4 linked regions of the Homo sapiens genome follow. The protein of the gene in region 1 interacts with the protein of each later gene in a biochemical or structural test. Each region holds a gene or a part of one and is shown in the gene's direction. Other genes may lie near its edges.

What was found.
Region 2: the proteins of LGALS3 (region 1) and TRIM23 form a complex in vitro, tested with the Homo sapiens proteins (one study listed by BioGRID).
Region 3: the proteins of LGALS3 (region 1) and TRIM5 form a complex in vitro, tested with the Homo sapiens proteins (one study listed by BioGRID).
Region 4: the proteins of LGALS3 (region 1) and ALCAM form a complex in vitro, tested with the Homo sapiens proteins (one study listed by IntAct).

The regions. Positions count from the first base shown.
Region 1 is NC_000014.9:55,138,490-55,146,362, forward strand, and holds the end of LGALS3 (galectin-3), read left to right. Parts: intron 1-1,785; coding exon 1,786-1,874; intron 1,875-4,094; coding exon 4,095-4,260; intron 4,261-6,626; coding exon 6,627-6,782; 3' UTR 6,783-6,934; downstream 6,935-7,873. UniProt on the Homo sapiens protein: Galactose-specific lectin which binds IgE. May mediate with the alpha-3, beta-1 integrin the stimulation by CSPG4 of endothelial cells migration.
Region 2 is NC_000005.10:65,606,894-65,615,094, reverse strand, and holds part of TRIM23 (E3 ubiquitin-protein ligase TRIM23), read left to right. Parts: intron 1-875; coding exon 876-997; intron 998-1,239; exon of another isoform or gene 1,240-1,368; intron 1,369-3,213; coding exon 3,214-3,492; intron 3,493-4,051; coding exon 4,052-4,234; intron 4,235-5,636; coding exon 5,637-5,852; intron 5,853-8,201.
Region 3 is NC_000011.10:5,661,938-5,668,518, reverse strand, and holds the end of TRIM5 (tripartite motif-containing protein 5), read left to right. Parts: intron 1-419; coding exon of another isoform or gene 420-620; exon of another isoform or gene 621-801; intron 802-807; coding exon 808-830; intron 831-2,437; coding exon 2,438-2,538; intron 2,539-2,836; coding exon 2,837-2,863; coding exon of another isoform or gene 2,864-3,012; exon of another isoform or gene 3,013-3,123; coding exon 3,124-3,710; 3' UTR 3,711-4,345; coding exon of another isoform or gene 4,346-4,484; 3' UTR 4,485-5,324; downstream 5,325-6,581.
Region 4 is NC_000003.12:105,368,975-105,377,175, forward strand, and holds part of ALCAM (CD166 antigen isoform 1 precursor), read left to right. Parts: intron 1-8,201. UniProt on the Homo sapiens protein: Cell adhesion molecule that mediates both heterotypic cell-cell contacts via its interaction with CD6, as well as homotypic cell-cell contacts. Promotes T-cell activation and proliferation via its interactions with CD6.

The DNA.
Region 1 (7,873 bases):
GTCAAAAAATTAAGTGTTCATATTGAGCTTATTGTGTGTGGTTAGTATAAACAGAAGGTAATGAGTATTTTGAAGGCACTGATAAAACTGCTTATGAATATAAATCAAGATTGTAGTAATGGAGAACATTTTGGTTATTATTAACACTTACGGAGTACATGTCAATAGTATGCATCTACATGGATAATCTCATTTAACCCCATTACCACGCTATAAGATACTGTTAATAACCCCATTTCACACATGGGGAAATGGGGCAATAGAGAAGTGATATAATTTGTCCAGGGTCATTGAGCAAACATGTAGAGGAACCAGGGTAATCTGGTTTTGAAAAACCTTCTAAAGATAATTTTGTGATCTAAGGGTTGAATTTTCACGCAAATTAAAATATGTCATAGCAAGTGAATTCTAAGTGTAAAACATAACTCCATGGGGGATCCAGATACATCTCAGCCACAGGATCCTTCCTTTCCAGATTTATAATCTAGTTGGATGATAAAACATATAATAAATATGAGGAAAGAGCTAAGTACCAGTATGGGATTAGACCATTTCAGGACTATGCAGAAGACAGCACAAGGTAGCATTGTCTCCTTTTAGGTCAGTTTAGAGTAGAAAGACTTGGGGGAGTGGGTGGCATTGAGAGGGCCTATACCAGAGATGGTTAGTCAGTTGCAGAGAGAGGGAGACATGAAGGCTGTGGAAAGGAACAGGCAGATGTAAGAGAGATTACAGAGGAAGAACCCCCAGAATCTACTGATTATGTCTTAGGAGTCATAGAGGACTCTGACTTTTCAAGGCTGAGCAACTAGAGCCATCAGCAAAGCTTTAGCCCAAACTGGGAACTCATGAAGGGGAACTGATGGGGGAGGGGGTAGGGAAGACCATTCTAGTTCACACTTGTTGAATTTGAGGCACTAGCAGCAAATCTAGGTGGGAGGAAGTACAGGACTAGTACACACCAGGACTAGAAAGAAAATATTTGGATAGGCTGGGTGTGGTGGCTCATGCCTGTAATCCCACCACTGTGGGAGGCTGAGGCAGGAGGATCACTTGAGTCCAAGAGGTTGAGGCTGCAGTGAGCTATGATCACACCACTGCACTCCATCCTCAACAACTGAGACTCGGATTTTTGAGACCTTGTCTCAAAAAATAAAAAGGTTTGGGTGATAGTTAAACCCAGGGGGAAGTCTTAAAAAGGGAAAGAAAAGAGGCCATAAATAAATAGAGCTTTGGGGATATTCACAGTACCTTGAATGTAGTTGGTCAATAAACATTTGTGGAATGAACCTCACAGTGTTAACAGTGTTCATTCCATAAATATTGAGTATCTGCCATATGCAAAGCACTCTGCTGGAGCCATGTGAGTACAAAGCATATGAGAACCCACAAGCCCAGAATGTGATATGCTGCTTGCCCCCAGGAAGCAGAATATCCACAGTAAAGCATGTACCATGACAGGGCCTTAAGAGTGATACAAAAATGTTAATGTTGATCACAAGATCTAGCTTAAGCCTTTCCAAAAATAGTCAACATGAATGAGTACAAATTGGGATGGCCGTAGTAATGAGATTTACTGATGGCTTTCTTTTCAATTATTTGTACATCTAGGGAGCCTTATCTCTTTGGCCCCTGGGCAAAGTGGCCTGAGAGTCTGGACAGATGGCATATACTAGAGTTATGTGTTTTTCACACATATTAATAGTGATGGAACTTTAGCAACATCGTTTTTTCCCCAAAGAAACATGACTCCTTATTGACACATATGTACTTGTTAATTCCCAGATTGTGCCTTATAACCTGCCTTTGCCTGGGGGAGTGGTGCCTCGCATGCTGATAACAATTCTGGGCACGGTGAAGCCCAATGCAAACAGGTAAGGAGAGCAAAATTAACAAGTCTACTCTATTTGTAGATTGGTTTTTGAATAAAGAATGGCCTACTTTTTTTCTTCTTGCCCTGTCTTACAGTGCTATTTTGAATTTTAGTAAAATTTTAAAAACTACATATTTAGAATCTTGGCTATACCATCATATAGGATTATCCCATAAATCCATACATATTCCCATATAATTTTGCTAAGCATCATGGCACTCATAGTAAACGGTAACACACCTTATTCTATACTTTGATATGTATTATGTCAGCTAATCTTCATGGCTGAAGGCAGGATAAGGAATATTGCTCTCCCCTTTTTATAGACAAAACTGAGGTTCAGGTTCTACAGATGATCAGTGGCAGGCCTGGGAACCCGTCTTTTGAGCAGATACTATTTGCTTATGGGTTTGAAGAGATTCTACAAGTTAAAAACTTCATCATTATAAATCAACCTTTACTATTGGAAGTAGTTTGATTGATGAGGTGGGCTAGGATGGGGTGAGGCTTTATTTAGGAAAATACATGCTAATTATGGCTGTCCTGGGCTGCTTGGCCCTGGTTGTCACCACTGGTTATGTAGTACTTACATATCATACAAGGAAGCTGGCCATGTCCTGAAACCATCTGAGATGCCTGCCCCTAAGGTTAGTGGAACTGTCTCTAGGTCTTATGGACAGTACCTAAATGGCACAAATTCAAGCCATGTACACAGGTTTATGCAAGAATCCATAAACAGTCTCAGTGTCTGTCACCTTGCTCCACATCCTGCAATCAAGAGATGGACTTCACTTCTGATCTGATAATTTCACATTCAAATGCTCATTCCCTCCACCTCAGCCAGCCTCCTCTGCTTCTGCAATGGTAGTCACTATCCTAAGCCAACCCATCTTTCCACACAGCCTAGACAATTTCTGTAAGCACAGAACTTCCCCGTACAATAATGCCCGTCTCATAGCAAATTACAAAATATATACATCCTCTACCTATGTCCTTATCCGTATTTCCTCCCAACATCACATAGAACCCAGCACACCTTATCCTGTGCACACAGCACTCATGATTTATTAAATATCTGCTCTCCTCCTCCCACAACCCCTAACGCACACTGAATACCCAGTTTGGTATCCTTGTCTTGTTAGAGTCATTTCACTGGAAAGTTTAGTTCTAATAATGCTAGAGATGTAGATTGAGACTGGCAGATCAAAACTAATTCTGGTTGAAATGGTTAATGGTAGTAAACTTAAAAAAAACTGTTGCTTAGTCCTGCAAATTCTATATGACGAACTGTGTAGAAAAAAAAAGTGCTTAAGGTGACAGAGATGACAACATTGTATATTTAGTCAAATACAAATTCTATGCTGTTTTTTCCTTACAAATTTAATCACTGGAAGATCATTTGTGGTTGAATGTGACTGTTACTGGGTGAATCAAAATACACAGACAATCTTTGTTAGTTGGTCTAGAGTGCAGATTAAAATACGAATACCTACTGATGACTCTGGTGTTACCGCTCTATAGAGCGCACTTTGAGAAACTCAGGGATGGGGTTAGTCAAAGAGGACTTGTGTTTGCATTAACCTCCAGGGAGAAGGAACAGGGTCAAAAAGCTAAACTAGCAATTTCATTGGTTCTGGCTCACATCATAGAATGTTTACCACATTTACTATCATGACTTTACAACTTAGCAACAAGATACTGAATATTAACTACCTTATCTCATTCTTGCTGTTTTAGAGGAACTAGGGCTTCTGGTTAATTATGAGGAAGCCAGGTATTTGATGGCTGTTAACTATATAGCTGGCTTGCCTTTACCAGGTATTGAAAGCAAACTGGAAGAGCAGGAAAGAGATAACCATTATCTATAGTAAGGGATAAAGTGTCCTCAGAGTGGCTCTAAACCTCTGTAAGAAAACCTCGAAGGGTTTTCATGAGTCTGTAGGGGCATTACAGATGAATGGAAATATGATCGAAGACAATGAGGCAAAAAATTCAACATCTATTGTCTTGCTTACCTTTAGATTTTGTGATAGTACATAGAATATCAGGCATAGGATATTTTCCAGTTTGAACCCATTCTGATTTATTTGCTTTCCATTCAGAAAAATTTCCTAGGTACTGTATTATGAAATTATTTGCTTTTTAGAAAATTACATGTTCTTTACACAGTGCAAATGTACAGCTTTAATCATTTTAATAACTGGTCTTTGGTTTAAAACAGAATTGCTTTAGATTTCCAAAGAGGGAATGATGTTGCCTTCCACTTTAACCCACGCTTCAATGAGAACAACAGGAGAGTCATTGTTTGCAATACAAAGCTGGATAATAACTGGGGAAGGGAAGAAAGACAGTCGGTTTTCCCATTTGAAAGTGGGAAACCATTCAAAGTAAGTTATTGCTACTATTATATATTGATAATGTATATTTCTCATGAGGAATCACTCTAAAACCCCAAAGCACTTGAAGTGAGAGTTTTTATCACCTCTCCTAAGGTGCCTAACCAGTTTATCTTCTCCCTGCCCAGGGGACCAGGCTCAGCAGGCTGAGAACATGGCCAGGAGTGGCACACTCCCCAGTTCCTTTCAGGCACCTCTCCATCATCACTGCTGCCACCCCTCTGAGTTTAAGCCTTTCTAGAAATGAAAAGAATATAATCTTTAACAAAAAAGGCAAAAAGTCTTTATGGTACAGTTATACTGCGACTTTGTTGCTTAAAACACAGTTGGCAGAGAGATGAAAACTAAAGGTTTTTTATTCTAAAATTAAAGTTTTATGAAAAGTTTATAAATTTTTAAATTAACAAAGTTTCCTATCTTTTACTCCTTCCCCCATCCTCACAAAGTTGCAATTCGATGAGTATCTTCCCAGTATTTTCTGACATACAGCACGCTTTTTATTTGTAAGCACTGCTTCAACAAATTAGATCCACAGCATTTAGGGTTGACTATAGAGTGGTGAATAAAACAGCTGGAGTGTAAACTCTTCAACAACAGGGACAAATAAGGACCACAGTCTACATTTGGTGGATATCTTTTCGTATCAGAATATTGTTACTTAATAGCACTTTTTTTTTTTTTCGAGACAGAGTCTCGCTCTGTCGCCAGGCTGGAGTACAGTGGCACGATCTTGGCTCACTACAACCTCCGCCTCCTGGGTTCAAGCGATGCTCCTGCCTCAGCCTCCCAAGTAGCTGGGATTATAGGCGTGCGCTACCATGCCCAGCTAACTTTTGTATTTTCTGTAGAGACGGGGTTTCACCATGTTGGCCAGGATGGTCTTGATCTCTTGACCTCGTGATCCGCCCACCTCAGCTTCCCAAAGTGCTGGGAGGATTACAGGCATGAGCCACCATGCCTGGCCAGTAGTATTTCATTTTTAGATATGTGATAATTTAACCAGTACCCTACTGATGAAAATTTACAGAATAGAAACACTCCAACCTGGAAAGATTTTACTAAAATACTGTAATAACTATCCTTACAAATCTTTGCTTCCTAGAAGCAAGTCTTCTAGAAATCTTTGCTTCCTAGAAGCAAGTCTTCTAGAAATCTTTGCTTCCTAGAAGCAAGTCTTCTAGAAATCTTTGCTTTAAATATACATGTTTACAATTTAGATATTGTCAAATTGCTGCTTCCAAAAAGATATAGGAATGAACATCCACTATTGGGAAGAGTAGATTTCTCCTACCCTTGCCAAAACTGATTATCATCAATCCTTACAACATTTGCCAGAGGAATCCTATTTTCGTGTTTTTCTTTTAGGTGTTTTAGACCATATCAGAACTTTTGGTTGTTTTGAGACAGGGTCTCACACTGTCACTCAGGCTGGAGTACAGTGGCATGGTCACAGCTCATTGCAGCCTGTCAACCTCCCAGGCTCAAACGATCCTCCCACTTGAGCCTCCTTAGTAGCGGAGACCACAGATGTATGCCACCCACGTGTGGCTAATTTTTGTATTTTTCTTGTAGAGATGGGATTTCACCATGTTGCCTGGGCTGGTCTCAAACTCCTGGGCTCAAGATCCGCCCGCCTTTGCCTCCCAAAGTGTTGGGATTACAGGCGTGAGCCACCACACCCAGGCTCTTTTAAGTTTTTATGCAGGCAAATCTTTAGCCTCCACCTTTATGGCTTCACTTATGTATCCTTCTAATAAATTTGCTGCTTTAAAAAAAAAACCTGAATAACTTGGAATTTTTTTGTTGTTGCTTTTTGTTTTTTTGAGACGGAGTCTCACTCTTTCGCCCAGGCTGGAGTGCAGTGGCACTATCTCGGCTAACTTCAAGCTCCGCCTCCTGGGTTCATGCCATTCTCCTGCCTCAGCCTCCCAAGTAGCTGGGACTACAAGGTGCCCGCCACCACAATCAGCTAATTTTTTGTATTTTCAGTAGAGATGGGGTTTCACTGTGTTAGCCAGGATGGTCTCGATCTCCTGACCTTGTGATCCACCCGCCTCAGCCTCCCAAAGTGCTGGGATTACAGGCGTGAGCCACCCCGCCCAGCATAACTTGGCATTTTTGCTGTAAAGTTACTTTCTCTGGATCTTAACTGGTCCCACAAATGATAAGGATGAAATGTTGGACATCCTGGGCTCAGGCCAGACTGGTTTGAAATTAATGGACATTTTTTCCCTTTATTTCAGTTGACAAAAAATTGTTTCTATAGTGCAGATGAAATATGTATATATTGTGGAATGCCTAAATCCAGCTGACATATGCATTACCTCATGTAACAGTTTATGTATATGCCATTTCAGATACAAGTACTGGTTGAACCTGACCACTTCAAGGTTGCAGTGAATGATGCTCACTTGTTGCAGTACAATCATCGGGTTAAAAAACTCAATGAAATCAGCAAACTGGGAATTTCTGGTGACATAGACCTCACCAGTGCTTCATATACCATGATATAATCTGAAAGGGGCAGATTAAAAAAAAAAAAAGAATCTAAACCTTACATGTGTAAAGGTTTCATGTTCACTGTGAGTGAAAATTTTTACATTCATCAATATCCCTCTTGTAAGTCATCTACTTAATAAATATTACAGTGAATTACCTGTCTCAATATGTCATTTAATTGGAGTGGTTTATTCTAGATAATGCACAATGGAAAAAATATGTAGCAATATTAATACTGCATTGGGGCCTCAAGGTTTCCTATACTTGTTAAAATATTTTTCTTAAGGAGAAAGTAAATATTACCACAAAATTATCTCTTCCAGAATTTCATAAAAATCAGCTGTTTCAAGAAAATTATTCTCTCATTTTCTTAAGGAAATATAACATGTTCAGGAAATCAGAATAGCATTAAGAAAAAGTTAACCTATAGATGACCTATGACCCATAGACAATTATTGTTAGGATTCTGGTATATTTCTTGACGGCTTTTTAATCCTATTTTCTCCTTCTATAGTTCACTGCTTTCAAATCAGTAATTTGATACCAATATAGGACCATCTCCCTGGTTTTTATGAAATCTCTTATGGAGAAAAAGGTATCTTATATAGTCGGCTTTCAAAATTTAATTGTTCCCATCGTCAACATTCTTGCCCATGCCTTTCTACCCTTATTAGCAGCAAGCCCAAAGATTAATAAAATTCCAAAACTAGGATGTGGCAAAACCACTTCATCTTATAGAAGACCAACATTTTTTTTTCTTTTTTGAGACAGAATCTGACTCTGTCGCCCAGGATGGAGTGCAGTGGTGCGACCTCAGCTCACGGCAACCTCCACCTCCCAGGTTCAAGCAATTCTCTGCCTCAGCCTCCTGAGTAGCTGGGATTACAGGCACCTGCCACCATGCCCGGCTAATTTTTGTATTTTTAGTAGAGACAGGGTTTCACCATCTTGGCTAGGCTGGTGTTGAACTCCTGACATCGTGATCCACCCGCCTTGCCCAAAATATTATTTTATACAATACTATCTTTTCAAATCTGTTAAATCAGTAATTGTCACAGGTTGGGTCTCCCAGGAAGCAGAGAGATTAGATCTCAAGAAGCTTGTG
Region 2 (8,201 bases), on another chromosome or scaffold:
ACCCCATCTCTACCAAAATATACAAAAAAATCAGCTGGGCATAGTGGCACACACCTGTAGTCCCAGCCACTTGGGAGGCTGGGGCACGAGGATCACTTGAACCCGGAAGGTGGAGATTGCAATGAGCAGAGATCACGCTACTGCACACCAGCCTGGGCAACATAGCAAGACTCTGTCTCAAAAAAAAAGTAAAAGAGATTTAAATAATTTTTTTAAACTGTGGCAAAATATATGTATAACATAAAATTTGCCGTTTTAACCATTTCTAAGTTTAGGGACATTAAGTACATTCATATTGTTGTGCAGCCTTTACCACCATAATTTTTTTTATGTGTATTTAGATTTTTTTTTTTTTTTTTTGAGATAGAGTCTTGCTCTGTCATCCAGATTGGAGTGCAGTGGTGTGATCTTGGCTCACTGCAACCTCCACCTCCCGGGTTCAAGCAATTCTCGTCCCTCAGCCTCCTGAGTGGCTGGGATTATGGGCGCCTGACGCCACACCTGGCTAATTTTTGTATTTTTAGTAGAGACGGGATTTCACCATGTTGACTGGGCTGGTCTTGAACTCCTGGCCTTAAGTGATCTGTCCGCCTCAGCCTCCCAAACTGCTGGGATTACAGGCGTGGGCCAAAGCACCTGGCCAAAAAATAATAAATTTTAAAGTGTGTTTCTACTTGGAAGGCTGAAGGATTCTTCTGTTTTTTAAGAGAGCATTAACAAAGCAATTATTTTGGTATTAAAAATGGGGAAAATTTGAATTTTAAAAATTTAGACATTAACTACTGAACTATATTAGAAATTACTTTTGAGGTATGGGTAAAATGATTAATAGTCCATTTTGTTAGATTTAGTTTTTGTTTTTATATTTATTCTAGGTGATTCAGGTGTCTGGGGATTGAAAAAAAATTTTGCTTTATTGGAGCTTTTGGAACGACTGCAGAATGGGCCTATTGGTCAGTATGGAGCTGCAGAAGAATCCATTGGGATATCTGGAGAGGTATTGATCATACTTGGTGAAATATTTGTTACGAGCATGAATTTTTCTTTTAATAGATGCCATTATTAGCACAATATTACTTCATTTATTTCAGCAGGTAAATTTCTAGAAACACAACTTTTCATTACATTACAGTTCTGAAGGCCAACACTATTCCCAAGAGAAAAAACTAGAATTATTTGAAAATCCTATGCCTAAACTATGCTTTATGTGTGAACTTTTTTTTCCTTATCATAATTCAGTTCTACCAAGAATAAAGTGAAAAGAGGAAGAAGATTATGGAATAGTAAGAAAGATATGTAAGCAACAGTAGAGAAGAGGATGCAAAAGTAGTCAACAGTAAAACTCAATGAGAGAAAGAAAAACTCGATGTAAGAGGCCATTTAATACAGAGGGGAAAATGCCTTAAAGATAGCAGTAACTTCTGAGGGAATTGTTACTGTTATAGCTTCAAGAAAAGGTTAAACTTTGTATAGATGTACTGTCTTTATCCATACAGGTAGATGTCTAGTAAATATCAGAATCCATGAACACTGGATTTTAATAATGTAAAAGTATATTTTTAGCACTTATGTGTTTGCATAGCTGCACATATGTACTATAGGACATGGCTTTCGTAGGCTGTTATGGGTAAAAATATATTTGGAGTAAATATCAGTTAATGATTTTGGTGATCAACTTGCAAACCACATATTTTGTATGAAGGAAAAAAAATGTCGGATTGCTTTCACTTCTCTTTCATTAGATGATGATTTCTTTATACTAAAGTGAATCAGTGAAATGAATTTCAAACTGCAACACTCTGTTTTCTAAAAGTTATGCAGTTCTTTCTGTGCTAAATCTTTAATCTTTATTTCAAAAGACATTACTGTTAGCTAATGTTGACATTATAGTTTATAATTTATTTATTTGTCAGGTCTGGGAAACAGAAGACCTGAATTTTTATGGTACATGTGTTTATTTCTCATAATTGCAAACAAAACTCTTCCACTTTGGATTCATTTTTTATTTAATGTGATAAAGAATGACACCATTGATGTATTTAAACATTTTTATTTTTGAAAAAATTTATACTAAATTTCTCCCCTTCCAATTATGGCCTTTTAATATTGAGTAAAAGTGTTCAAAACATTCTTGATTATCTGACATGTAATTTTTTATCTACTTGAAATAAAAGTAATTATTTCATAATTAGTTATTTTTTGTAATTCCTGAAAACTAGAAATAATATTTACATGCTTACATATAGGTTTTATTTATTTGTTTATTGTTATTTTTTAAGACAGAGTCTCACTCTGTCACCCTTGCTGGAGTGCAGTGGCGTGATCTCAGTTCCCTGCAGCCTCCACTTCCTGGCTTCAAGTGATTCTCGTGCCTCAGCTACCTGAGTAGCTGGTATTAGAGGCATGTACCACCACACCTGACTAATTTTTGGATGTTTAGTAGAGATGGACTTTCCCCATGTTGGCCAGGCTGGTCTCTTACTCCTGGCCTCAAGTGATCACCTGCCTCAGCCTTCTTAAAGTGCTGGGATTACAGATGTTAGCCACTGAGCCTGGCCTATTTTTTTTTTTATTTGCTTAAATCAGTGGTTTTCTGCCGTGATTGTGCAATAGACTCACCTGTGGAGCTATTAAAATAACATGGCGTATAATTAGAAAAATATATACAAGTCTAGGGTTCATCCACAACCTGTTGAAATAAGAATTTCTCTTCCAGACAGCTATGTTTTTAAAAGCTTACAGCTAATTCTGATGCATACTCCTACATTTTCTAAATAGCATTTGTGCTTCTGTCCTTCCTATACATCATCATGACAACTAATATTTAAAGCTATGGGGATGTATTTAATATCAGATTTTTGTAGTTTTACAGAAAGACTTTTGACTTCTCTATGGTTTAGTTTCTTTTGTGTAAAGTGAGGGGATTTGGTGGAAGAGATCTTTGCACCGAATATGAATCTATGAGAATAGTTCTATTTTTGGCTTCAAATTCATAACATATATTGGCCAGTTAATCTTGGAAATAGCTTCTTACCCCTAGAAATGAATGCTTCTCAGATGAGTATTGAATGACCTTTGTTCTTAATGACCAATATATTTTCATATGTAAATATTGTTCAGTTAAGCAAAAAGGATTATGGATTCTATATTTAAAAATTCGTCATGTTATACTGATTGGGTTCAATTTTAAGGCATTAATTTTTTGTTTATCAGAGCATCATTCGTTGTGATGAAGATGAAGCTCACCTTGCCTCTGTATATTGCACTGTGTGTGCAACTCATTTGTGCTCTGAGTGTTCTCAAGTTACTCATTCTACAAAGACATTAGCAAAGCACAGGCGAGTTCCTCTAGCTGATAAACCTCATGAGAAAACTATGTGCTCTCAGCACCAGGTGCATGCCATTGAGTTTGTTTGCTTGGAAGAAGGTTGTCAAACTAGCCCACTCATGTGCTGTGTCTGCAAAGAATATGGAAAACACCAGGGTCACAAGGTATGAATTTAATTATTAATCAGTTGGATCACTGTAGCTACTTTACCAGCTCAGTATTCGTTTTCACTGACCTGGTTCTTTATTCTGAAAGTAGGGATTGAAGAAGAGTTAAGTGATGAGTGATTGGGTTTGGTAGCATGAAAATAAATGAGAGATTTAATTTCTGAATGTTATAAAAAAAAAAAAACTTCAAAGAGGCATCATGATTCTTCACAAAAAAATAGCTTTCGAGCAGGAAACAAACATTCTGTTTGCTTGCATGTTTTCATAATGCACCAGATTGTTTTGACAATATTTATGTCTGTTAGCTCTTACTTAGGATATGATTTTAGAGATAGTCTCTTGGTTTTTTGTTTAGCAATAAACGGACTTCCAAATTTTAAATTACTTCTTTGCAGTACAGTTTTCTTATAAAGGAGTGAAAGTAAATTAGTATTTTTCTGTGTCATAAAAGTCACTTGTGGCTGATGCTTTTTTGTATTAATAGGGATTTAAATAGTTTTTTATATTATTAGTCAATACTATGAGTTCTTTTCTCTAATTATGGTACATTTTATAGCATTCAGTATTGGAACCAGAAGCTAATCAGATCCGAGCATCAATTTTAGATATGGCTCACTGCATACGGACCTTCACAGAGGAAATCTCAGATTATTCCAGAAAATTAGTTGGAATTGTGCAGCACATTGAAGGAGGAGAACAAATCGTGGAAGATGGAATTGGAATGGCTCACACAGAACATGTATGGATTTTTTTTCTTCTTCACTTTCTCATTCTTTTTTATTTTTCATATTTTCACCTTCTACTAAGTAATTAATGGGCAATTACAATTTGCCAGTATTGCACCAATCATTAGAAAGTTTTTTAAAAGTCCCTGTCTTTCAGGAACTCATTCATCATGGAAAAGAGAGAGTTTGAAATATGGTAACTATTTTATGGAGGAGAAGTACAGGGTGCTTTGGCATCACAAAACAGGGACAATGATTTATGGAGGTCAGAGAAGTCCTTATAGAAGAAATGGTGTTTAAACTGAGATTTGAAGAATTTCAGTCAGGGAAAAGAGCAGAACGGGGAATGAGTTGTCCCAAGAAGGGAACAATATGTTAAAATGTTTGTAAGTGAGGATTGTACATATTGTAGAGACTTAAAGAAGCTCACTGTAGTTAGAGCTTTAAGTATTGAATGGGACATGACAAGAAAAGAGGATATGGAGAGTTCAAAGCCAAATCATGCAGGATCTTGTCAGCCATGTTAAAGAGTTCAGAACTTAGTTTAAGGACAGTGATGAGCCATTGAAGAATTGACTTAGGAATGATATAATCAGATTTTCCTCAAGAAAGGTTGTTTTAAATGTAGAAAATGAATTGGAGGAGCAACAAAATTGGAAGCAGGCAGACCTATTAGGATGTTGTTAAAGTTTTCTAGTTAAAATACTAGAGATGTTTATGGCCTATAATACACTAGGGTAGTGAGAGTGGACACAAGTCAATGGATTTGAGATTTTAAATAAGTAGAATAGATAGGTCTTAGTGATTAATTGTTAATATTGATTGGATAGGTAACTTAGAGGTGATGAGGCATGATCAGATTTTGGGTGTATTTTGAAGTCAGCAGAATTTGCTGAGGGACTAGTGGGCTATGAAAGAGAGCTGATAATGATGACTCCGGTTGTTTTTGCTTCAACATCCTGAAGGATGGAGTTGCCATTTACCAAGACAGAGGCAATTAGGTTTGGGAATAGGGGAGACTGGAGATTAGGCATTCCATTTTGCTTGAGATGTCATTTATAAACAGTTGAATTTCCAATGTCTGTGCATTAGGGGAAAGATCTAGCATGGAGATTTATATTTTGGAATTTAATATAGATGGTATTTAAACAATGTCTCGCTCGGTCACCCAGGCTGGCATGCAGTGTTGTGATCACCACTCACTGCAGCCTTGACTTCTGGGGCTCAATCAATCCTCCCGCCTCAGCCTCCTGAGTAGCTGGGACTACAGGCACATGCCACCACGGCTGGCTAATTTTTTCCATTTTTTGTAGAGACAGAGTTTTGCCATGTTGCCTAGGCTGAAATTTTAAATATTTCACAGGTAAAATCTTTATTAACATTACAGTTGCTTAAAATTTATTTTCATTTTCTTAGGTACCAGGGACTGCAGAGAATGCCCGGTCATGTATTCGAGCTTATTTTTATGATCTACATGAAACTCTGTGTCGTCAAGAAGAAATGGCTCTAAGTGTTGTTGATGCTCATGTTCGTGAAAAATTGATTTGGCTCAGGCAGCAACAAGAAGATATGACTATTTTGTTGTCAGAGGTTTCTGCAGCCTGCCTCCACTGTGAAAAGACTTTGCAGCAGGTAGGTAGTTTAAATGTGGTTAGGGACTTAGTTGTAAGTTTAAGTAGATAATTACCAGAGGTATACATTAGTGTGTTTTATTAATATTTTGTGTCTGCTGTATGCAGTAACTTTGTGCTTAGGAAATGGTCTGCAACCTTGAATTATTTCACTAGTATGGAATTATCAGTGTCGTTCACGTGCCTTTCCCACCATAAGCCATGGGTTCTTGAGGCCTTCTAACTTCTTGCCATTCTTCAGTTATGCCAAATCCTTTTACTCTTCTTTGCCAAGCATATATGTAGTTTTTTTTTTTTTTCTGCTTGGAGTGCATATATCTCTCTTTTCTAATAGTGGAAATCTTCCTTCTCCTTCAAGGTCCAGCTTAAATATTTGCCTTTCTTTGAAGCTTTCTATTTGTTGGTCTTTTTTTGAGTGCCTCTCTACCATGTACTGCCTACGTCTGCTATAATTCAGTGGTTCTTCACTGTTAGAGCAAACGTATGTTTTGTGATGGTTGAGATACCATAAGAAATTTGTTACCCAGTTTGCAGATGACTTACTTTTTTAAATAAATGAGATTCAGTTATTCTAACACAAATGTCAGCTTTACCCATTTGTGTTTTGGATCTGTTTTCATAAGTGTGAGGTATAAGAATAACTATTGCCCTAGGAATTTCAGAAAAGCTGCAGTCTGTGTTATCTTCACTGATATATTGCTAATAATTGTGTTGATTTCAAATCATTGTAGGCTAAGCCTTGTACCATTGTAGAGCTTTTTCTCTTAAATATGTGATTACACTTACATGAGAGTGGCCAGTCTATAGCCTCATCAGTCTTGGGTTATCATTTAGTCCTTACCACACTGAATTGTAACAGTTGATATGTATGCTATTTATTAAGTTGATTTTCAGCTCCAAACCTACTCTTCTATCCTCTATTTTGTGATACTAGGGCTAGAACTCTACAGACCTCATAATTGTGTTGCCAGCTGGGCCCATGTTAGGTACTGTCAAGAGGGGGCATAGTTACTCATGTGAGGAGACCACCCTTCTCGGAGGTTTGAGTTTCAGCTCCATGAGCCACTCCTGCAAGTTTCTAAGTTTTAATAATTCTAACTTCTTCCTTTTATTCCTTTAGCACTGGAAGTGGTAGCTATGTTATTTCATACAATTGCTACCTCCTTAATACCTCAGAGTTCCTTTTAACCTTTTAGCTACCTAGTTAATAACTACACCTAGTTAACAGTTTTTATTTTAAGTTCTTTCTATTCAAGTAATGGTGTGATTTGTGTCTTCCGATTTGACCTTGAATGACACAATATGCCTATGTGTTTTAGATGCTGACCTTGTTCATCTTTGATGCATCTTGTTCATCTTTGTGTCACTAAATTCTTTGCATCTAGATAGAAAGAGCTTAATAAATACATGTTTAACTCATGGCGGATAATGAAGCTACATAGCAAAATCAGAGTGGAGTCATGTCCTAAATCATATTTACTTGAACACTTAAAAGTATTTTCATATTTATTTTATGAAAAAGTTTGTTCATAGTTACTGAAATATTTAAGTATTTTAGAGTTTCTGAAGTGTTGTGCCAAAATGACTGGTATATTAGTCCATTTTCACACTGCTTTACAGATACTACCTGAGACTGGGTAATTTATAAAGGAAAGGGGCTTAATTTACAGGTTTGCATGGCTGGGGAGGCTTCAGGAAAGTTAGACAATCATGGGGGAAGGCGAAGGGGAAGCAAGCACCTTGTTTACAGGACGGCAGGAGAGAAAGAGAGAGCAAAGGAGAGGTGCCACACTTTAAAACCATCAGATGTCATGATTAATCACTATCATGAGAACAGCATGAGGGAAACTGCCCCAATAATCCAATCATGTCCCTCCCTTGACATGTGGGGATTACAATTCGAGATGAGATTTGGGTGAGGACACGGAGCCAAACCATATCAACTGGTAATTTTTAATGATACAGTATTATCTATGTTAATGCAAAAAAATCAAGGTCTTGGATTCATTTTTCATATGGACCTATTAGTTTTGTTCTATTTTATAACTACAGAATACTAACCAATGTTCTTTAAAGTTCCCACTACAGAGAAAATTGAACAGAGGAATGGATGGAACATCACAAATTGATCTTCACTTCTGAGAACATAATTTAATCATCCATCCACTCTAAACAAATTATGCATCATCTAAAGTTCTTGGCATGATACTGGATGCTGAATATTTATTCATTTAGCAAATATGTATTGAGTAGCTAACATATGCCATGTATTTAAAATATATCAGTGAACACAATAAGCAAAAAGCCATAATCTTGTGAAATTAGCATTCTAGCAAGAAGACAGGCAATA
Region 3 (6,581 bases), on another chromosome or scaffold:
GAGATCACGCCACTGCACTCCTGGGCAACAAAGTGAGACTCCTTCTTAAAAAAAAAGAAAGAAAGAAAAATATCTATACTTGTTTAGTACACTTGTTTGCTTATACCCTCAGCAAAGGCCGCGTAAACATCTTGAGCACTATTATTCATTCATCTTTGATTCTTCAAAATGTGACATAATGCCTGGAGAATAAGTTTATATATATATGTTTTCTTGTTTATTTTTGTGATTTTCTTTTTGTTTAGAAGTGGGGTCTTACTCTGAAACCCAGACTGGAGTGCAGTAGTGTGATCCTAGCTCAGTGCAGCCTCAGTCAAACTTCTGGGCTCAAATTCTCCCACCTCATCTTCCCAAGTAGTTGGAACTACAGGCTCATGCCACCATGCTTGGCTAATTTTTTTTTATTTTATTTTTTGTAGAGATGCGGTCATGCTATGTTGCCTAGGCTGTACATCTGTTTAATAAATCAAAGAAGCACTAATTATTTAAATCATTTCATGGAGAGCCATATACGTTTGGAGAAAAACAAATTGTCAGTCACTTCTTTTCCTTCTAAACATGTCCCATCTGCAGAAACCAGGAGCCTCTTCCACAGGGATGAAAGCTATTTCTACTTTTAAGGGAACTTGGAAATCTCACATGAGTCTTCTGGGATGATTGCCTTGAGTCTTATCTTTGCTTTTTTGTCTTTCACACTGTCACCATCTCCATTCTCAGCACATTAGGAACCGGGGGAAATGTGATGAAGCTTTATAAGTGAGGAGAGACTCTTTCTTTCTTAATTGATGTTTTCTCTCTTCTTCCTAGGGTGTGGATGGCGTCATAAAAAGGTATGTGTGGGAGGACAGAGATGGTCCTTTTGTGCAGTGAGGAGAGATTTATAGCCATTAGAATTGTCCTGGGTTTAATTAGAATAAAACATCTCCCAGGGCAGAAAAATTTCGATATTGTTTTATCATAAATTTCTGGTCATAAATCAGCATTCGAATGTTCTATAACTATTAAGAATAGACCAGATTTGGCCAGGTGTGGTGGCTCAAGCCTATAATCCCAGCACTTTGGGACGCCGAGTCAGGAAGATCAGGAGTTTGAGACTAGCCTGGCCAACGTGGCAAAACCCTGTCTCTATCAAAAAAATACAAAAATTAGGGGGGCGTGGTGGCCCGTGCCTGTAATCCCAGCTATTCGGGAGGCTGAGGCAGGAGAATTGCTTGAATCCAGGAGGCAGAGGTTGCAGTGAGCCAAGACCATGCCACTGCACTCCAGTCTGGGCGACAAAGTGAGACTCTGTCTTAGAAAAATCAATAAAATTAAATAAAATTAAAAAAAAGAAAAGGAATAGACCAGATTCTATGGTAGAAAATTTGGGTGGTGGAGACTCGGAGTGTGGGTCAGTAGTGGTTTCAGGGAGAAGGTGTTGCAGTGTTGGACCCCTGCGCCATCACCATTTTATTACCTACATCTAGTTCTCTTTCTGTATTTAATAGGTTCTTGATTTATTTTGGATGGGCCATATCTTCTTTTTCTCTTATATACCCCTAATTGTCCATTGGGACAATTCCCACATGTTTATATTTTCCTCCTGGAAAAAGACCAGTTCCTCTTCATTTATATTTAGATTTCCAAAATCAGATGTTTATTTCCGGAATAATATTTCAAAATAATATTCTGGATAATATGTGGTCATGGTACAAAGAATTGATCCACCTCAGTTGCATTCTTTACAAGAGCATAAAAAGGTGCTATTCTTGTGTCTAAAATCGCACACCTCGCACACCTACGTGGTGGTATCAAGTTCTTTCTAACCACACGATATTCAGGCCAGTAATAGTTTAGTGCACATAATTTCTCATTTGCCAAGTGTTTGTAATTTTTCCCGGAAATCTGAAACCTTAGATGTTATCTGAGTACCTCCCTGCTGGGAATAGCTTTGAAGGTCTTAGGCCTCTCCAAACAGGATTCCTCTCTTGATATGTGTCAAACACCCAGGAGCCAGGTTCTGCAACCTCACTTTCTAACCATCTCCCTGGGAACTCAACATACATAGCGATGATGTTTCCACCCATTAAATGTTAGGGTTTCTTTTGTAAGGCACCAAAGTTTTGTTTTGTTTTGTTTTAAAATCCTTTTTTTTTTTTTTATGTCCTATGAGTTTAAGAATGTAGACAGGGAGAGGTTAATTATTTCATTTTAGAAGGAAGAAACTGTGCTTCTGAGAGGTTAAGATCTTCCCACGTTCTCACAGAAAGTAAGTGGGAAGGCAAACATGAGAACATTTTGTTTGCCTCCAGGGTCAAGAGTTTGCACTCTCCCTTCTCAGGATCCCCAAGAAGAGAGTTCAAGTGCCTCAATGGGTTGAAATGATAGGAAGTCAGGGGTGTTCCACGGACACAAGGTCAAAGGTTTGGAAGTTTTTTTTTTTTTTTTTAATTCTTAGGACGGAGAACGTGACCTTGAAGAAGCCAGAAACTTTTCCAAAAAATCAAAGGAGAGTGTTTCGAGCTCCTGATCTGAAAGGAATGCTAGAAGTGTTTAGAGGTGAGGAGAGCTAGATCAACAACAGGGTTATGGAATTCAAGTGGTGTTAGGGTGCTAAATAGGGAAGAGGGTGCAGTTTCCAAATATGGATAGAGGGGATAGGGGAGGATAGATATTGTCTGCTGCTGATGGGATTATATTTAATGGGAAATGGCTAGGTGGCTGTTTCATCTCATCATTCAGCAATTTACTGCCCTACCATAGGGCATACCTACTCTTTCCCTAATCTGGAGAGAAAATGAATTTCAGTGCTGACTCCTTTGTTTGTATTCAATATTGTGCATTTTTATCATTTCAGAGCTGACAGATGTCCGACGCTACTGGGGTAAGGAGAAGTCACATTATCATAAGCCACCCTGCGGCTTATCATTATTATTATCTTTATCTTTTAGAATTTTATGTTCTCTATTAGGCTCATGTTTTAAGATTTATGATTCTCCTTCCAAGACACACATAACTTACCCCTCCTTATAACTTCTAAACAAGGTTCCTCCCAGTTTTCTCTCAAGTCTTTATCAAGATTTCTCTCATATCACAAATAAAGTTACATTATATCCCTTAGCTGACCTGTTAATTTTTCTACAGTTGATGTGACAGTGGCTCCAAACAACATTTCATGTGCTGTCATTTCTGAAGATAAGAGACAAGTGAGCTCTCCGAAACCACAGATAATATATGGGGCACGAGGGACAAGATACCAGACATTTGTGAATTTCAATTATTGTACTGGCATCCTGGGCTCTCAAAGTATCACATCAGGGAAACATTACTGGGAGGTAGACGTGTCCAAGAAAACTGCTTGGATCCTGGGGGTATGTGCTGGCTTCCAACCTGATGCAATGTGTAATATTGAAAAAAATGAAAATTATCAACCTAAATACGGCTACTGGGTTATAGGGTTAGAGGAAGGAGTTAAATGTAGTGCTTTCCAGGATAGTTCCTTCCATACTCCTTCTGTTCCTTTCATTGTGCCCCTCTCTGTGATTATTTGTCCTGATCGTGTTGGAGTTTTCCTAGACTATGAGGCTTGCACTGTCTCATTCTTCAATATCACAAACCATGGATTTCTCATCTATAAGTTTTCTCACTGTTCTTTTTCTCAGCCTGTATTTCCATATTTAAATCCTAGAAAATGTGGAGTCCCCATGACTCTGTGCTCACCAAGCTCTTGAACCTTCTTACACACTCAGCCCCTTCTGTACAGCACCTCTTGTCCAGGTGCATCTCATACACCTGAACTCATTTGCATCATTTTAACCATCTTTTCCTTGCTGTCTCCCTTCTTTCTATTTGAACGTCCTTCACTCATCAGTAAAATGTAATAATTGCCTTGTGCCATATTGTCCCCAATATTTTATTGACATTTGATAGCAATTTTTTTCATCATTTTCCGTACTCCTAAGGAAAACTGACCTATACCTCATAAAATGAGACCGCTATTTAGGTATTACTTCTGCCAGATATTTATCACCCAATTGCCTCTGACACTGACTAAGAAGATGAAGAAAAGCTTTTCAACAGCCTTTCTATATCATCGTGTGATAATTGTTCACCAATGAATGAGTCCTTAGCCCTGTGTCAGTTTACCCTCGATGCCCTTATTTGTGAGTTAAAGAGAAAATATCATAAATGGTATACTCTTAAGTATAGAGGTTTTGTATCTAGAGGATCTCAGTTCAACTCCTGTCTCTCCATATACCAGCAGTGTAACTGTGAATAACATACTTAAATGGCTGTGCTTATTTCCTTTTCTTTTCTTTTTTCTTTTTTTTTTTTTTTGAGATGAAGTTTTGCTCTTGTTCCCCAGGCTGGAGTGCAATGGCACGATCTCGGTTCACTGCAACCTCCACCTCTCAGATTCAAGCAATTCTCCTGCCTCAGCCTCCCAAGTAGCTGGGATTACAGGTGCCCACCACCACCCCTGGCTAAATTTGTATTTTCAGTAGAGACGGGGTTTCCCCATGTTGGTTAGGCTCGTCTAGAACCTCTGACCTCAGGTGATCCACCCGCCTCGGCCTCCCAAAGTGCTGGGATTACAGGCGTGAGCCACGGCGCCCAGCCTGTGCTTATTTTCTTAAAATAATTTTTGTATTAAAAACTTCACATTAAATAAGTGCTAATGTTTTATTGCATAGTAGGGTGACTAGAGTTAACAATAACCTATTGCATATATTTTGAAATAGCTAGAAGAGAGGATTTTGAAAGTTCTCAACACAAAGAAATGACACATATTTGAGGTGATGGATATGCTAATTACCCTGGTTCGGTTATTACGCAATGTATACATGTATCAAAACATCACACTGTACCACATAAATATGTATATTTATTATTTGTCAATTAAAAGCAAAATAAAACAAAAAACCTTCATCTAATACTTTGGATCATTGTGAAAAAATAAATTCCTGAAGTATAAAGCATCTATCTAAGTGTCTTGATCTAATAAGTACTTGTTCTACAAATTATTGAAAAACATAAACTCTGTTAATGTCTCATGGAACAGGTTGTGCCTTCAGGGAAACTAGGATTGGATTTACTAAATTCTCATTTTTTAGATCTCAGATACTACTGTCAAAATGACTTCAATTCTGCCTTCTATATATAATACACACATATATTTAGGATTTTATTGTAATTCTAGTGTTGCTACATATTAGTCTTTATCAAACAAACTGAATTATGTGGGAATCAGTTTATTAATTGTAAAAAATAATTATAATAAAATTAGCTGATGTAGTTTTTTAAAAGTTAAACGAGTTTTTTGAATAGCTTCACTCATTTCTAGCATGTAAGGGGTAATCCATTATGGTGTTGGGCTTTTTTGTTTGTTTGTTTGTTTGTTTGTTTGTTTGTTTTGAGACAGGGTTTGTCTCTGTCACCCAAGCTGGAGTGCAATGGCACGATCTCGGCTCACTGCAACCTCCATCTCCAGGGTTCATCCTTCCACCTCAGCCTCCTGAGTAGCTGGGACTACAGTCACGCACCACCACGCCCTGGTTATTTTTTGTATTTTTGGTAGAGACAGGGTTTCACTATGTTGCCCAGGCGGATCCCGAAGCCCTGGGCTCAGGCGATCTGCCCACTTTACCTCCCAAAGTGCTAGGATTATAGGTGTGAGCCACCATGCCCGGCCTCATTATGGTGTCTATTAATTTTTGGTTCCCTCTCACTGTGACTGAAAGCAATAATTTTTAACAATATGTAATAGTTCTTTTCAAAATTATCTTTCTCCCTTCGTTTGAAGAAATACAAGAACTAAGTTAAAAATCACAGATTTTTCTTGTAGAAAGTTTTAAAATAAGTGTTTATAAATGGGAAAAAAAATCTTTGTTCTTAATTTCATAGCTGCCTAGTCTTAAGTTGTTTTAAGTATTTCTGAGTACTCTAATTTCATTGTAAATTTTTCCTGTTTGCCAAGTAGTAAAAACGTATTTTGCACAGTGATGCAGATAAAGTCAGAAGTACATGTGGCATTTCTCAACAATGGTATCGATAAGTGAATTGTGAGCCCAGGTTAGCCTGACTCTTCATTAAAGTAACAAAGGCATGGTAATTTTCATAAATGACAAAAAAATACTTGTTCTCCTTGTTCAGTGAGGAGAATTATTTTTGCAACGGATGTTTATGAAGGGCATGGTAGGATCCCTATGTCTATTGGCATTTTTATTTCCAACTCTTTCCCAAGTTTTGAGCTGAAGTTTTTTGTTTTGTTTTAATGGTCTACCTCATCAAATAGTCTCTGCTCTTCACCCTGCTTCCCCACAGAAATTTTAAGGTCTCTATCTTTGTGGTAACTTTAGTCAGAGAAGGGATTCCAAGGTGAATATTTTCAGTAACTATGTGTGTGCACACACCTCTCTACCTCAGCACCATCCAGGGAAACCGAGGAGGTTGATGCTATAAATTTTCCCTTTTACCTCTGCTTTCCTGTCACCCAATGCTATGAAGATTGAGGCTTTCACTCACTGGGAACAGTCTGGACTAGCTTGAATTATTGGCAAGTGACTCTCCAGGGACATTAATGCCTTTTCATTTCCTGGAAA
Region 4 (8,201 bases), on another chromosome or scaffold:
TGGAAAGGCGAGACCCCCTTGGGCCTGGCACAGTGTGGATTTCACTTTTTCGAGATTCCACTGTCCGATGGAGGAAAGGACACTTTGGAGCCAGGGAATGAGCCAAGAAGGGAGGACAAGGGTGATGTCGGTTTGTAACATGCAAACGTCCACACGCCCACAGTTGGTTTTCCGATTAACCCCCTCGAGACTTGGAGAATGTAATCTCACCCTCGTCCACACCCCTGACACAGGCACATAACCAGTTTCCTTTTCGGTGCCGTCACAGGCGGGCCACGTCGCAGGATAGGTTTTTCTACACATTTAACTGCTAAAAGGGGGAAAGTTCCGCTTTCAGACCTCCTTCACGGTGGTTCTTTTGGCGCCACAGGCTCGTGTGTCCAGGGGGCACCGAGCTGCGCGCTTTCGGCGAGCGGCTAGCCCCGGCTCACCGCAACCAGCCACCGTGAATCTGAGGATCCGATATCGGCCCTGGACCCTCAGATCCGTGGTTTCGGTGAATTACCGAGCTGGCATTGCCGAAATTCTCATTGCAGTATCAGTGTGTTTTGAAAGGAAAGGTTACAGCACTAAAGGCGCCGTGTCTACACTGAGGAAGCAAGTCTTGGACAGTAAGTGCGCCTTCTTCGGAGCCCTCTGCATAGCAGAGCCCGGTGGGGGCGCGGTGCCAAAGGCCGGCTTCATTTGAGCGGGGTAACTGCCTTCCCTGCCGGCCACTCTTCATTTCCGGAGCAGTTTTAATAGTGTATGTCCAGTTGTAGAGGTCAAAAACTCGAGTTTGTGAAACTGCTTCCCCGGGTCTTTCGGCTTGTAGTCGCTACAAAGTCATTGATATATTTTAGGCGTGCCACGTTACCTGTTTTGAAAGGAGGAGAAAAATATATGAACCACGAAAACTGAATTCAGAGATGAAGGCAATGAAGTGTGTGTTCAACATCCGAGATAGCAATATTCTCGTTATTCTTGTAGAAAGAGCGTCAGCCTGTGGTGACATTTTGTATTGCTTAAAAAAAGAATGCTTTTCTGGATTATTTACAAGGAGATGGGGCGCTGCAGTTAACTCTTTCTTCACTTGGGTCATCTGTATGAACCCCTCTATGGGATTTTTCATAACTACTCACTGATCTCACTGATATAAGATTCATTCTAAGACATAAGCACACATAAAGCTTTCTTCAGTGGGATATTATGTTTGAAACATATCAATTGATCTCAACAGGACTTGGGAAAGCATCAACTCAAATAATGTCCTTTCAAAGACTATTGATGTAGGACTATTGAAATTGATTAATTTAAAAACTAAAAACTGTTTAACAGCCAATATATATATATTTTTTCCTTAAGGATTTATTTAATCCAATAGCAATTTACAATTTAATGGAGCATTATTTGCAGTAAATTGCTTTTCTAGGCTTTCTTCAGGACATCTACCTTCAGGCACTTGAGCAAGTCATTTAACCTTTTTGAGCTTCAGTTTTCTCATACAAAATAAAAAGACAGACTAGAGGCCTACTCTCTGAAATGTCTCCCAGCTCAAAAACTCTTTGTTTCTGAAGTCTTAAGGTAAAAAACCAATTTAGGCAGGCAGAGTCATTTTTCAACACTATTTTTCTAAGGATCTCAGTCTAGACAAAATTCATATAAATTGTATTATTAGAAAAGTATCAGTAGACCCCAATTTCTAATTTCCTTTTTTTTTCTACCTTTAAAAATTCATGATAACATCTATGCTTACTCTTTCCAGCCTTAGTAGGGAAAAAAAAAAGCGTGAAGGAGAGAAATTAGCCTTCCACTCTCCTGGGAAAAGAGGACCCAAAAGTAAGAAAGGATAGTAGGCCTCAGAAAGCCCTGCTAGTGTAACTCATCTCTCCTGCAAACCTGTTCCTATATAAACTGCATACATAGTACCTAGAATGAGATGTAAATTATGGTTTATGCTTAAATATTCATATGACAAAGCCTCATATTGTACATCCTAAAGTTGCTCAAAAAGTTGATTTGCAACATGGTTGTAAATGCAAGACAGAAGGAAATAGAAAATACTAATATTTTTCTATTGTTTTAAAACTTGTAGAAATCCAAAATATCTTGTCTTACCAGATTCCAAACCTTTTCTGACTTTGTAAAAAATTCAAACTAGCTTATCTTTTTTAATAGACATTCAGATGAAAATGCATGTCTACCATTGACTTATCAAAAAGAAGAAAATTAATTAAATAGTCTTGTGTTATTAGAAAAATTGTATATTGTAGTCAGTATTCATGTGTTCAGTTTCTAACTATGTCATGTAAGAATGTTGTGACCTTGGGAAAATTATTTTTCTGCTCTTTTTTATTTCCCATCTGTGAATTTCTTTCTGTGCAATGTGTGGTTCTGATTGTGTTGAGATTAGTAATTCCCTTGCTCAGCATTTCAAATTTTTTAAGTAAAACGTGCTATATTAATTAAGGCTTTTATTATATTGTTAATAGAATAACATTCTTTAATTTATTCCACTTAATTATCACTTTTATCATTTTATTAAAATAATGGAAAGATGTTTCTTTTTTTTTTTCTCTTTTTTCTTTTTCTCCGTCAAATTTTCATGCCACTAACCGTGGGCCTTTGTAAAACTTAGTACCACCTAAGTTGTCAATATTACTTGGTGTAAGATGGCAGCAGTTTGTCAGATAGTATTTTAAATGCTTTATAATCACCATGTTTTACAATTCCAAACACACTTCTTTCTGTTCTGGCCATTTATTTAGCATAAAACACCATCAAAGAGTTCTAGCTCCCTGAAGGTATTCACTCAAGTAGACACATGCAATTTATAGCCCAGATATGCAGAAGATCCACTTAGGTATAGCTATGATAGAAGAATATGTCTCTGTCTCAATGTATACATAGAAACTTAAATGCAATTTCTCACAATGTGTTAATTTTATTCTTCATTGTTAAGTATTCACAGAGGCTAATCTCATTTCTTACACATTATGTGTGTGACACATGTATGTGACATATGAAGAATGAACTAACTTACTGGAATACTAAAGAATGGTTTCTTGGGTGTGGTGGGTGATAACATTTATTTGGTTATTACTTTTGGATTTCAACTCAGTTTATTTTCAATAAGAAATGGAAAAAAATCCATTTATACTTTTGATTACTTTTTTTATTAGGGTAGAATTTTCCTTTCCTTGTGGAGAGTAAATTCAAGACTAAAATAGATATTCTATATTCAGGAAGAGAATATTGCAGGCTGTTTGGTAAGGTTAAATCTAAATCCTACAATTATTATAGTGTCCCTATAGTACGTAAGTCATTACCATATTTTTGGAGTTACTGATATTTTCATGCAGCTAATTTCTCTGCTTAAATAATAAATTTTACATTCTCTTTTCTCCCTTATTATTGAATAGAATACCTTATATATTTCAGATAGGCCTAGTTCCAAATGTGGTATGGTATTCAGTAATTGTTTTATGCTAACCTATTATCATAGCCCATTACTGTAGTCTATGTTCCAAGAATGAAATTAGCTTTTAATGCTTCCTCTCTTATTTATCCAGTCAGTTCTCAATTATCCATTCCATTGAAGGGGAAATCAGAGTTGCGCACAATCCAAAACATCTTCTAACCAAAGGATTACTTAATTTGACTTTGAGTTGAGGTACTTCAATGAACATGTCTATACTTGTCTGGTCTAAGAATTCATAGTACTTCAACACAATGAAACTAAACTGCTGGGGAATAGGTTAATCAGAAATTAGACAGCTGTCCAGCTTCTCTGATTTGCTTCTCTATTACTGTTATTATTGTTTTAGCTCTTTTCTGTATCACTTAAGGAACTGATGCAAAATCTTGGCCCAAGTAAGACTAAAAACATCTATGAGATGAAACTAAACCTTTGCAATCTTCTCAAATCCTATAAATATTATAGACCCTTGATGTTCATTCACAGGAAAACATACTATGACCATGGCAATTGCTGTAGTCTTCTGGCCTTTGCTCAATGACACTTCCACTATGAATAATTTGTTTAGCTCTGCAAAATCACATTTCAAGTTTTAGAAAAATTTTACCCTCACCTGGCCCTTTTTCTTAAGCAAGTTTTTTATTACATCATATGAGTTTCCATGAATAAATGAATAATAAAGCAATACCCTTTTCATGTTATGAGTTGGGTTAGCAGCCAGGTAGGTTGACTCTCCAGTAGGATTTTCACACACCTGCTTTTAGAAAAAAAAATTACTACTTATAATGGATTATGGGGTTACAGTAAACAGTGAAAACCAGTAATATCAAATCCATAAATGTTAGGAAGATTGGAACTTGTAATTAAAAAAGACTTTATTTTTGATTATTTTAACTTATTATGATGATTTCACTAGAGAAGTTAACTGAATTTGTAGATTAAGATATCAACCAGCACTCCAACACAATGTTTTCTTGAGGGAGATAAATCTCAAAGATACTTTCACCTTAGAAATTGATATAAGTAGATTTTTATCCTCTCCATCTGTATAGTTTTAGAGAGAGTCTAGATTACCTTATTTGAACTGTGAATGAAGAAAAAAAAACTTTCCTGTACTTACTTGCCTTTGGTGCAAAATCAACATTGGAATGTTGATAATGACTAAAGTGAGTCTTAACTTTTCCCTTTTCCTTTTCCCTGTACTTGTCTTTGCTGTAGTTTTTACCACATTGTATTATGATATTGGTGACTTTTTTCAGTTGAACATAAATTTTTTGAATACCAAATATCATCTTTGTCTATGTATCCTCAAGTCTAGTTAAGAGCTTGACACCTAGAAGCTGCTTCACATTTTTTCTTTGCATTAAATACAGTAGAAGCAATGCATATGTGGAGAATTAAACTCCATATGGCAGCACCTGACATTCATGCATTACTAAGAAATTTTCTCAAGGAGTTTGGGAGTTGAGGATATAATATTCCTCACTGAGAATTGAACTGGAAAATAAAACCATCATGAAAGAACAGAGTGGGACAGGCTATCAAGACCTGATGGCACTTTAGTAGTATTAATGAAAAACAAAAAGAAAAGAACATGTATATTCGTAAAGGACCTGTGATTAAGGATGAAAAAGACTTTGGTCATTGGAGAAACACAGAAAAAGTAGAGGAGTTGGGCCAAATGTGGTTATTGAAGCTATTATACTTAATGAATCCAAACACTTTCTTTTATGGTGAAAGTAAGTGGCCCCTCTAACTGGCAGACATGACTTGCCCAGTCTCCTTAGCAGGTATAGCTTTTTGTTGAGATAGATAAAACTCATTATAAGAACCTAATTCTGGGGCCAGGCTCAGTGGCTCATACCTATAATCCTAGCACTTTGGGAGGCCGAGGCGGGCGGATCACCTGAGGCCAAGAGTTCGAGACCAGCCTGGCCAATATTGTGTAACTCTGTCTCTATTTTCTTTTTTTCTTAAAAAAGAACGTAATGCTCTGAATATTCAAGTCATATAGTAAACTTTCCCATGGTGGAATTTCATGGTCACTAAGAAATCTTCTAATTATAATGTGATGCTTGTTTTTTGTTTTTGTTTTTGTTTTTGAGACGGTGTCTCGCTCTTGTTACCCAGGCTGGAGTGCAATGGTGCGATCTCTGCTCACTGCAACCTCTGCCTCCCGAGTTCAAGCGATTCTCCTGCCTCAGCCTTCCAAGTAGCTGGAATTACAGGTGCCCACCAGCTCGCCCAGCTAATTTTGTGTATTTTTAGTAGAGACTGGGTTTCACCATGTTGGCCAGGCTGGTCTGGAACTCCTGGCCTCAGGTGATCTACATGCCGCGGCCTCCCAAAGTGCTGGGATTACAGGCATGAGCCACTGCACCGAGCCCAATGTGACTTCTTATATAGCCAGTTTACAGTCAGAGGATGCACTAGCTGGAAGAGAAGCATTGTATTCCCTTGGCAATAATTGCTCTTATGTATACCAATAAGCTGGTTTATGAGTTTGGTTAGTGAGAATTCATCTTTAAAAGATGGGAAAATGTTTGGTAAGCAGCCAAAAGAAGCTTCTAAGTTTTCAGGGTTGAAACCTACACATTGAACCCTTCCAAATTCAGCTTGTTTGTGGTACAATCAGCTAACCATTCCCCAGGTGACACCTATGGTGTCATTTGTTGTCAACTTGTGTGTTACCTATTATAGACATTTATTTTCTTTCTTGTATATCTTTTGGTGCTATCTTGCTTAATATGCATATTATTAGTAGGTTGACCATTCATTCATCTTGGTATACCTAAGACTGTCCTGGTTTATGCCTCATGAGCTGGTACAATTATTAATGGCATCCTTTTTCATTTTCAGAAGTGCATTTTGCATAACATATCATACAGGCTCCACAATAATTTGTAACTTGTCTTTATGTCTTGGAGTACTTCACTGTGATAAATGCACTCTTCATCCTAACCAAGTGCATATTTTTAACCCATTTAAATTTAATTATCAGCTACAGTGAAATATCATTAATGGGTTATATGCCCCTTTCATGTCAGGTATAAGAAAGAAAGATGTGAGGTTGTAGCCTCTAGAATTCCAGAATGTTGTGGATATGAAACATTGAGGATCCTATGGTTTGGAATGGAAACTAAATTGACCTCAGATGCCAAGGGAATAATTTTGTTTGAAATTCACCTGGGAGCTACACTTAGCTACGGGGTTATTTAGGGAAGAACTATTTCAGTATGAGCATGAATTCCTTTTGCAGCAAATTGTACAACTCCCATTCTGTTCTTCTATGAGATTTCTCAGTAATCACACTACCAATTTTTTTCTTAAAAAAACCAGGGATGTTGAAGGAAGCCCCAGCATTCTTCTGTACATGCAAACTAAGTTGTATCAGTCAGAAAAGGCGACCTGATGTGGCCACCAACAGTATGGCTAGGATACGGTTGTAGTCAAGGGTGTGACAACAGCAAAGACGCTTATCGCGGAAACTTTGACCCTGTATTAACAATTTTCACCTTCTAGATCCTTGGGCAAAACATACGGCCTTTTGAGAGGCTCAAGCAGTGTTGAATAAGAATACTTTCACTTAGAGCGAAAACCTTAACTCTCTCCAGAGTTAAATTATGGAAAGTTCAGTGTGTGTGAGTTTGTGTGTGTTGGGGGCTGGAGAGGAGAGAGAAAGACAGAGACAGAGAGAGAGAGAGAATGAATTCTGAAGGATTAGAGGCATGGAATTTATTGTCACAAGTTAAAATATGGTAAAAGAAGGGTTGTTGGAAAAATGAGAATGTTCTTTTGATGTTCTTTTTGTTTAGCCCCCCATTTGAGAGCTGAAATAAATGAAACCACAGGTTTAAGAGATTACCTAAAATCCAGTAGCAAATTAACCACAATTCCTAGTGACATGTTTTCAGTTTCATTTGCGCCTAAACTCATAGATTAAAGGTTTTGACCTGTAAAGAACCTAAAAATTAATTAACTACTTGACTAAGGTCACATTGTTGGCCAATCCAGAACTAAAACTCATGTCAATTGATCATTCAGCATATATAACAGCTTTCAACAAATATTAATGGAGTGCTCAGTATGTACTACACATTGTGCTTGAGGATATGGAAATAAACTAATTACTATACATTCAAGATCCTATCACTCAAAGATGTTATGTTCTCTCAGGGAAACAGATATCAATTAATTAACTATATAACTATTTGCTAGAAATTTTGGTAAATGTCACAAGAACAATGAACAGCATTTTACAACAAAGGGGCCAGATCTAGTCTGGGATTTAAGAGAAACTCAGAAAACGTCTAGCAGGAAGTGATATCTGAGCTACGTGCTGAGGAATAATCTAGCAAAGGATGTAGGCTGAGGAAATAACATGACTGAGGATGCTAAGGTGGTAAGAAACATGGTTTCTAACTCCTGGAGGTGAAAATGTGCCTATCCCTTTTCATGAAAACTAAAGAAGTTTTGAAGGTTGAGGCAAAAACCAAGGATTCCTTGAAGTTGTTCAAATACTTTCCTGCAATCTCCCTAATTGACTTGCCAGTTGTGGGATCTACAAAAGGATGTCTTTGTCTTATTGAAATATTCACATATTAGTAAATATTTGTATGTATACCTCCCTACTTAAAAAATAAAGTGGAAACATACCATATACATCATTTTGTACCTTTCCTTTTTCATTTAACAGTACATTTTGGAGATTAAAAAATTGTCTCATAGCAGCACCTATAGCTCT